Homo sapiens: one gene and its partner. The protein of the gene in region 2 interacts with the protein of the main gene of each other region in a pairwise test. Each region holds a gene or a part of one and is shown on either strand. Other genes may lie near its edges.

What was found.
Region 1: the proteins of TOM1 (region 2) and LITAF interact in a two-hybrid assay, tested with the Homo sapiens proteins (one large-scale study listed by BioGRID and IntAct).

The regions. Positions count from the first base shown.
Region 1 is NC_000016.10:11,555,920-11,560,220, forward strand, and holds part of LITAF (lipopolysaccharide-induced tumor necrosis factor-alpha factor), read right to left. Parts: intron 817-4,301; coding exon of another isoform or gene 812-816; coding exon 592-811; intron 1-591.
Region 2 is NC_000022.11:35,316,257-35,321,360, reverse strand, and holds part of TOM1 (target of Myb1 membrane trafficking protein), read right to left. Parts: intron 3,485-5,104; coding exon 3,400-3,484; intron 1-3,399.

The DNA.
Region 1 (4,301 bases), on a different chromosome or scaffold from region 2:
CCCAGGCAGTCTGATTCACGGGCCCCCTCTCTGAGCTAAAGATTTCTTTCAGAACTACCTGTGATACTAAAGCAGTGACATACCAGGGCACCCTTGGGCGGAAGGAAGCACCAAAGGACAGGGACCATCTAGTTGCTCAAAAGCAGAAGAGCAACTTGCATTGAGGGTGAGCTGGTATGAAAACACAATCACACATTGCTCAGGACGGTTTCTTCTCCTCCCTATTCCTACCTCGGCCCTGGCCTCAGGGCAGAAGTTCTGCATCAGACCTCAGGAGGAAGTGTGCGGGCCCTTAAGACACAAACTCCCATTCTCAGAAGAAAGTTGGTTGTGCCTCCAAGAGATGTGCCAAAAGATTCGTATATGATGACCATGGGAAAGATCCTAAACCATACTTTATTACGGAAAAGCTGTGAGCCTCACCAACATGGAATCTAAAAGACTGCGTGTGGAATTTCAAGGTAAGGGGGTAAAACTGGAACGTACTGGCACTTCACTTAGACTCTTTGGCAGAGTCACTTCGGTCACTCTCCTGATTCCCAGGGTGGAGGGCCAAGGAATGGTAAGGGGGGCCTGGGAGGCCACACGTACTTGGATTGTTATTGGGGATGGGCGCTGGCTGGGTATAATACGAAGGAGGATTCATGCCCTTCCCATCAGGCCCCGTCACAAGCCCCGTAGTTGGCCCAGGCATGGGAGCTGGAGGTGTGGGGTAATAACTGTTAACAGCCACTGTCTCTTCATAGGATGGAGGTGCGGATGGTGCTGAGGAAGGCCCAGTGGCCGCCTGGTAAGGTCCTGGAACCGACATTTTACCTAAAACAGAAACAGAACATACCAGATAAGAAATTCAGTTGATCTCTCCCTCTCTTTTTCACCTAAGTCTTCAATTTTCTTTCTGGCAAACAGAAATTCTGAGAAAATGACTTCCATCCAGCTTTGTCCAAAAGCTAGGAAGAGGGTTAATGTCCCTTCAAGACCCCAGAATTAATCAAAAAGTAAATAATTACTACCCAAAATCACCAAAACCTGGAAAATCCAAAGTGGAAACATCAACCAAATAAGGGTCATTTCTTCTTCACATCTTAAACCATTACCAGACAATGACCTACGTACCTTCCATATCTGGTGTTTCTTCTTCGTTGTTTTTTTTTGTTTGTTTTTTTGTGGTTTTTTTGGTTTTTAAACCACTGTGGTTTTCACTAACTGTTTCAGGTAACGGAAAAGATAAAGGCATTCAAAAACCAACCACAAATTATCACAAATAGCAAAGGGGCCAGATGCCACAAAATGCACACTGTATGATGCTATTTAAATAAAGGTCAGAAATAGGCAAAATGAATCCATGGAGCGGTTACTCTTGGAAGAGGAAGAAGAATCTGGAAAGGGGTATGAGGGGGCCTTTGCGGGGGGCGGGTCCTGTTCTCTTTCTTCACCTGGGGGCTGGTTACAGAGGTATGTTCAGTCTGTAAAAATCTCAGTTGTACAATTAAAATGTATATACTTTTTTGTATGTGTGTTATAGTTTTGTTTTTTGTTTTGTTTTATTTTTTTGAGACAAGATCTGTCACCCAGGCTACAGTGCAGTGGTGTGATCTCAGCTCACTGCAGCCTCCACCACCCAGGCTCAGGTGATCTTCCTGCCTCAGCCTCCCAGGTAGCTGGGACTACAGGCATGTGCCCCCCCGCCCGGCTAATGTTTTCATTTTTTGTAGAGATGGGGGTCTCACTTTGCTATCTAGGCTGGTCTTGTACTCCTGGGGGCAAGTGAACCTCCCGCCTTGGCTTCCCAATGTGCTGGGATTAAAGGCATGAGCCACCGCGCCCAGCCTCTGTGTTATAGCTTTTTAAGAAGGAAATACACATAGACTCCAGTTCTCATTTTGAAAAATGAGCACCAGAGCAGCCAGGCACACATTTTCTTTTGTGAGGGCAAAGAAAGGATTTCCCTCCAGCCCTGGCAGAGCTGCTGCTCGCCTAGAATTACACCCTGCACCCAGAGTGTGCTCCTGTCTGATGTTCCATGATCCAGCAGCCATGGGGCAGCTGGAAGCAGACACAGTGCTGTTCTTTGTGTGGCTGTTTTTCTAACTGGGCAGGGTTCAGGCTGCCTTAGAAGAGCCATTCAAACCTGTCTCGGGAGAAATGGGAAATGAGGCTCCGGGGCAGCGAGCCACAACCACCACTCCCCTCTCCCGACACTGTCTGCCTCATTTTCTAGAACTCGTGGGAAGCCAAGGCAGCAATTAATCCCACTGCAGGGAGAAGGGTAGAGTCCTTCTCAGAAGCCCTGCCTCTAAACCAAGCCCCAAAGAGGAGACTTCTCTGGAGGAACCGAAGAAAGGGTATTCACCTCAAAGTGGAAACAGAGACCAGGTGCGGTGGCTCACCTGTAATCCCAGCACTCTGTGGAGCCGAGGTGGCAGGATAGCCTGAGCCCAGGATCTCAAGACTAACCTGGGCAACATGGTGAGACCCCCATCTCTAAAACAAAACAAAACAAAAGGGCTGGGTGCAGTGGCTCATGCCTGTAATCCCAGTACTTTGGGAGGTTGAGGCAGGAGGATCACTTGAGCCCAGGAATTCACCACCAGCCTGGGCAACATAGTGAGACCCTGTCTCTACAACGAATAAAAAAAGTAGCCAGGTGTAGTGGCACACACCTGTAATCCCAGCTACTTAGGAGGCTGAGGCAGGAGGATTGCTTAATCCTAGGAGGTTGAGGCTGCAGTGAGCCATGATCACTCCACTGCACTCCAGCCTGGGAAACAGAGCGAGACTCTGTCTCAAAAACAAACAAACGAAACAAAGTGGAATAGAGGCGGGGGAGTGAACGTGATAAAAAGAAAGTCAGTAAGTAAAGATAGGTTGGGGCTGCATTCTAGAAAACTTTGAAAGTCCCTTGGAGAACACGTGTTCAAGACTTCTTTCTATCAGAGTGCTGTCCAACAGAATCTTCTGTGAGGATGGAAATGCTCTGTATCTGCTGCCCAATATAGCAGCCACCAGTCACGTAAGGTTATTGGGCGTCTAAAATGTGGCTTGTGGCCGGGCACGGGGGCTCATGACTGCAATCCCAGCACTTTGGGAGGTCGAGGCAGTGGGATTACTTGAGCCCAGGAGTTCAAGACCAGCCTAGACAACATAGTGATACCCTCTCTCTACAAAATTTTAAAAATTAAAAAAATTAGCCAGGCATGGTGTTGCACACTTCTGGTCCCAGCTACCCAGGAGGCTGAGGTAGGAGGATCACTTGAGCCTAGCAGGTGGAGGCTACAGTGAGCCATGATCATGCCACTGCACTCTAGCCTGGGTGACAGAGCGACACTCTATGTCTAAAAGAAAAAAAGAAATGAGCTAGTGTGAGTGAAGAACTGAATTTTTTTTGTTTTAGCTTCTTTTTCATCTTTTTACTTGCCAATGAATTTTTACTTGTATTTAAGTTTAAGCAATTTAAATGTGAAAACTAACAATTCAATTATTGGGAAGCTTTTATGTAAGTCTGGGACAACTTGAATATATGAATCATTTTTTCAATGGTAAATTTGATGAACACTGAATATAGATCAAAATGTTTTTTGATAAAAATTTAGCATTCAATTTGGGATAGAATGTCAATGTAAAAATACACCCTGGGTTTCAAAACTTAGTAGGAAAAAATGAATGTAAAATATCTCATTAATAATTTCTTATATTGATATATTAAAATGACCACAGCTTAGATATATGAAGTTAAGTAAAATGTATTGTTAATTTCACCTGTTTCTTTGTACCTTTCAAAATGTGGCTACTAGGCCGGGCATGGTGGCTTACACCTGTCATCCCAGCACTTTGGGAGGCTGAGGCAGGAGGATGGCTTGAGCCCAGGCATTCTAGATCAGCCTGAGCAACATAGGGAGACACTGTCTCTACAAAAAAATTAAAAATTAGCCAGACATGGTGGTGCACCCCTGTGGTCCCAGCTACTTGGGAGGCTGAGGTGGGAGAATCACTTAAACCCAGGAGTTCAAGTGAGCCGTGACTGCGCCACTGCACTCCAGCCTGGGCGAGACTGTCTCAAAAATAAATAAATAAAAACAAAATAAATAAAAAAGAGGCCAGACACAGTGGCTCACGACTATAATCCCAGTACTTTGGGAGGCCAAGGCAGACGGATCGCCTGAGGTCAGGAGTTTGAGACCAGCCTGGCCAACATGGTGAAACCCCGTCTCTACTAAAAATACAAAAATTAGCCAGGTGTGATATTGGGCGCCTGTAATCCCAGCTACTCAGGAGGCTGAGGCAGGATAATCACTTGAACA
Region 2 (5,104 bases):
GGACATTCAAAAAAAAAAAGCAGAACCCTAGGTCCCCACCCTAGACCACCTGAACCAAATTCTCAGGGAGTGGGGCCCCTGAATCTGAATGCTTCTCATGCTCCCCAAGGGTTTCTTATGCATGCTCAAGTTTAAGAACAAATAACCTGGAGGCATAATGTTTTCATTACAAAAATAGAGATGGGGTCTTGCTATGTTGCCCAGGCTGGTCTCAAACTCCTGGGCTCAAATGATTCTCCCACCTCGGCCTCCCAATATGTTGTGATTACAGGCATGAGTCCCTGAGCCCAGCTAGCATAGTGTTCTGATGCCCCGTCCTGGCCAGCTGCTCTATCTGTCCATTTACCCTTCCATTCAAGTTTTTTTTTTTTTTCCTTCTGAGACAGAGTCTCACTCTGTCGCCCAGGCTGGAGTGCAGTGGTGCAATCACAGCTCGCTGTAGCCCGGAACTCCTGGGCTCAAGTGATCCTCCTGCCTCAGCCTCCCAAAACGCTGAGACTACCAGTGTGAGCCACCATGTCTGGCCCATTCAACTCTTATTAAGCACCCAATATGTATGTAGCACCATGCTAGGTGCTGGGGACACAGTGGCAAACAAGACCATATGGCCCTGCCTCCTCCCCACCTTGCGGGGAGATCCAAAGAAGAGCAAGGAATAAGCAGGTCCTGGAAAAAGAGCAGAGGTGAGGATGGGGGTGGTCAGAAAAGACCTCCGAGGGGGTGGTCTTGTAGTTGGGCCTTGAAAGATGGGAAGGACCACCTGGGGGGAGTGGGGGCAGAGCAGTTTGGGTCAAGGTCAGAGCCTGGACCAAGGTCTTGGGTGCAGAGGAGCTTGATGCCTTGGAGGAACTAAGAGGAGGCCACACTGAGTGTGGGGGAGGTCGGGGAGGGCTGAAGAAGCCTAGGGGTCACGGTGTTGGGAGGCCCCTGGAAGCTGGGGTGCCAGCCTGCTCTCCCTGTCCCCTCTGTGATTCCCACCATCCTCCACCCTCGGCCCTATACAGGTATACTCAGTGCTGCCCTGACTGCTCTTGTCTAAAAGCCTTTGTGCAGGGCCCCCACTTGCACCCTGAAGGCTCCTGACCTCCACATCCATGAGGTGAAGCCTCAGCTAAAATCCACCCCTTCCACAACACTTTCCCAGGTCCTCCAGTCTCCCTGGCCTGTTCTGCCATGCCACATTGAACTGGGGGCCCACCCTGGGTAGAGAAGAAGCTTGCTAGAGGGCAGGGATGGTGTTCTCTTTGGACAGCTTCCCTTCCTAGAGCCCATCACACTACTGAAGCACAAGTAACATTTCTCAGCCTGGCCAGTGGCCACTGGGACCCATCCGGCTGTCTGCCTGGCTGTCAGTGCTGACCCCATCCAGGACTAAGGCAGGAGAGCCTGGAACCCTGGCACTGGTTCTCAGCAGGAGTGAAGGCAGAGGCAAGGCTTCCTAGGGACAGAGCCTGCCTGGGGGCTAGAGCTATGGAGGCGGTCAGGCCTGCGGTGGAAGGGACACGGTGGGGAAAGGGATGGTGGCCCACCAAGGGGGGTCCTGGCCCAGAAGCCTGAGAGCAGTTTCCAACCCTTGCCTCCCTGGGCAGCCCCTCGCCCGTCCCTGGCTCCTGGTCTTGGCCTGGCCACTGACCCACGGGCTACTTCAGCGCTTTATAGTGACTTCTTTCCACCTCTTCTAGGGTGGCCTAGACACAAGGGAATCAGAATCATTCCCTGGCATGTTCCGCCATGCGCCACTGACCTGGGGGCCCACCCTGGGAGAGAAGAAGCCTCCTAGAGCGCAGGGACAGCGTCCTTGTTGGACGCCTTCTCTCCCTAGAGGGAAGCACTGGGAATCGGAAGTTCTGGCCTTGCCACTGCTGTGGGCCCATGATGTCCGGTACTCTGCTGGGAGCACAAAGTGTATGACAAGGAGGCCACAACCCAGTGGGGGAGACACTTTAGCAACGAGGCTAAGTTTAGGTGCCATGCTTGGTGAGGTCAAGGGTCATGCCTGCCTTTGATCACTGCTGGGTCCCTAGTGCCTCCTGTGTTGCCTGGAACACACAAAGTGCTCAAATAAATAGCAATGCACCTGACCGACGCCGAGCCTGTTCCTCCCATGTTTATAAGGGACATGGGGGCTTGCTGTCCCCAAGGATACTGCAGTGACTTGCAGCTGCGACGTCCATGAAGCTCCCAGGCCTGTCTAGAGGCTTGGTGAGGTTTTCTGCCTCCTGCTTTCTTTCTTCTGACCTCTGCCCACCACTCCTTCCCTCACCCTCACTCTCATGAGTCCTTGGCAAGATCAGGGAGCAGGGCTGAGGAAGACACCGGCAGGTTCCTGGCAGCCACTGCCCTCTCCTGACTGGGCCTTGACTGTGTGACTCAGATGCCCACAGCCTCCCTCCAGCTCAGAGCTGGGCACTCCCTGCCCTCCACCTGCATCCAGCCTGCGCCTCTCCACGCAAAGCCCTCCCGGGCTGAGAGGAACCCTGCACTGGCCGCGGGAGAGCTGGATGATCCCAGTGAGAACTGGAGAGGGAAAGGAGGGTCCACACTGATTTCTCAGGATGGAGGCCTCGTCTGGCAGCACTTCCTGCTGCCCACGGCTCCCACACCTCTGCCCAGCCTTCGCTGGGTTTTCCTGAGAGGACAGGGACCCTCGCATCCCCTTTCTGCTCCCTCCAGGGACTCGGGCTTATTGCTGGAAGGATCTAACAGAGCACCTTCGAGGACAAAGACCTAGAGAGGTAAAGTGACTTCCGAAGGTCACACGGCTGGTCAGTGACAACGAGTCAGACATTGGAGGCCAAGACCCCAATCCTTCCCCCACACCATGTGCCTTGGCAGGGCTCCTTGGCACTGAGCAAGACGATACCGTGACCCCAACACCAGAAACGCCCGGCAAACGCCAGTGCTGTTCAGGCTCACGGTTCAGCTTCACTTTCCCTGCCATCCTTGTGATCTCCCTTACCCTCCAGGCTGGTTTCAAATCTTAAGGAAATGGAAGTCTGTTTTTGCTCGCAGAAAAGCCGGAGTCTCTCTAGTACACACTCCCGCCTGCAGAATGCAGATGGCGCTTGGGGTCAACTTCTGATTAAGAGTCTCCAGCTTGCCTCATCCTAGGCAGATGCTGCACACAAGGCTGGGCTTCCAGATCCGTGTGGAATCTGGGCTGCCACTAAGAGAGGCGGGGTGGGGTGGCAGCCCCCAGGGGCCAGCTGTGAATTCCTACCTTGGATGGGGCTCAGGTACTAGGGGCTCAGATGGCCTCTGCAGCCAAGCGGGTTGGGTCAGACTTGGTGGCTATGGCAGCAATGGGGCTGGGGCAGGGGCTCCCTGGAAGGGTGCAGGAGTGTGCTGCGTGGTGGGATGGCCGTCTCTGCCCCCAACCTCTCCTTGGGGGGCCCTTACCCTTCCTCCGTCTCGTTGATGATGTCGCAGATCTCCATGTTGAGGGCCCAGTCCTCGCTCTGCAGGGAGCCATCTGTGGCTTTCTCTGAGAAGAAACCAGGAGTCATAAAGTCATGAGGGGGTCCTGAATGGGTAAACTCAAACCGTGGGTGGGAGAGGAGGGGGGTGCAGGGCCGGATGAGATGGGGAGGAGGAAGATGACAGACACTTCCTGGGCACAGGGCCTGGCCCTGTGTGAGACTGCTCTATACACATTGTCCCATCGTCACTAGATTCTTGTAGCCACTGAGGCCGGAGTACCTCTGCTCTTCAATGGATGAGGAAACCATGACTCTGAGTGCACCAAAGGGATGCACCAGAGGGGAATCTAGGTGGGCCTCCGTGTGCTTATTCCTGACATGACAATATGGAGACAGTGCTTTGCTTCATTTCTGTAGATAAGATGTTCTCCCTTGACTTTAGAATTATCTTTTGAGCTGGGCGCGGTGGCTCACGCCTGTAATCCCAGCACTTTGGGAGGCTGAGGTGGGTGGATCACCTGAGGTCAGGAGTTGAGACCAGCCTGACCAACATGGTGAAGCCCCGTCTTTACTAACTACAAAAAAGTAGCTGGGCATGGTGGCACATGCCTGTAATCCTGGCTACTTGGGAGGCTGAGGCAGGAGAATCGTTTGATCCCAGGAGGCGGAGGTTGCAAAGAGATTGAGCCATCACACTCCAGCCTGGACAACGAGAGCGAAACTCCATCTCCAAAACAAACAAACAAACAAGCAAAAAAGAATTATCTTTTGAGTTGGTAACCATTCACAGGATACAAAATGTAAAAGTTCTCAAGTGGTATACAATGGAGCTAGGTAAATCTATCTCTGTCCCCTGCCCCAGCCCCCTCTTCCTAGAGGCATCCCCTGTAACCAGGTTCCTCTAGAATCTCACAGAGAGCTTCTTTACCTAGGAAGCAAACGCTCCATTACTAACAGGTCACCTGGCCCTCCTGTACCCTTCTGAGGCACCCACAGAAGGGACCGATGCCGAGCCACCCAGCAGAACTACCCCAAAGAGAGGTGATGATTCATGCAAGGTACCAGCACAGTAAGGTATCAGCACGGCAAGGTATCAGCACGGTACGGGCCCAAAATAAACACTCAGCAAGTGGTGGTGGTTCTTTTTAAAAAAAGTTGAGGCGAAAGTCACATAAAATAAAACTAACCATTTTACCATGTATAATTCAGTGGCATTTGGTACACCTGTAATACTGAATACAACCACCACCACCTCTATTCAGTTCCACGAAATTTTCACTTTGTGGCAGTTCCTAGGGTAAGATTTCCAGGCCGGGAGTCGGCTGCAGAGTTCTGGAAGCCTGTCAGGGCCATGGCCGGGACCACTGGCTGCAGGTCTGCATGGTAGCAAGCACCGGGCTTGGCAGCCTTTTGTGAACTGTAGTGTGGGAGGCACTAATTGGTATTACATGAATGATGAACGCAGGAACTCGCAATGCCAGCACCTTTGTAAACGGTCTTTAGGAAAGGGAGGTGCCGCATGGCCTGTTTTCTGTTCTCTGCGCCTTCCTAGATGCTATCTTCACGCGTCAACCACGTGCACACAGGAAATTTTGTGCCCTGTTTCTTGCAGGTAACGTTCCATTACACACATCACTCTGGCTGGTATGTATTGTGACTACATGGAGGACTGTGTGATAAGACAG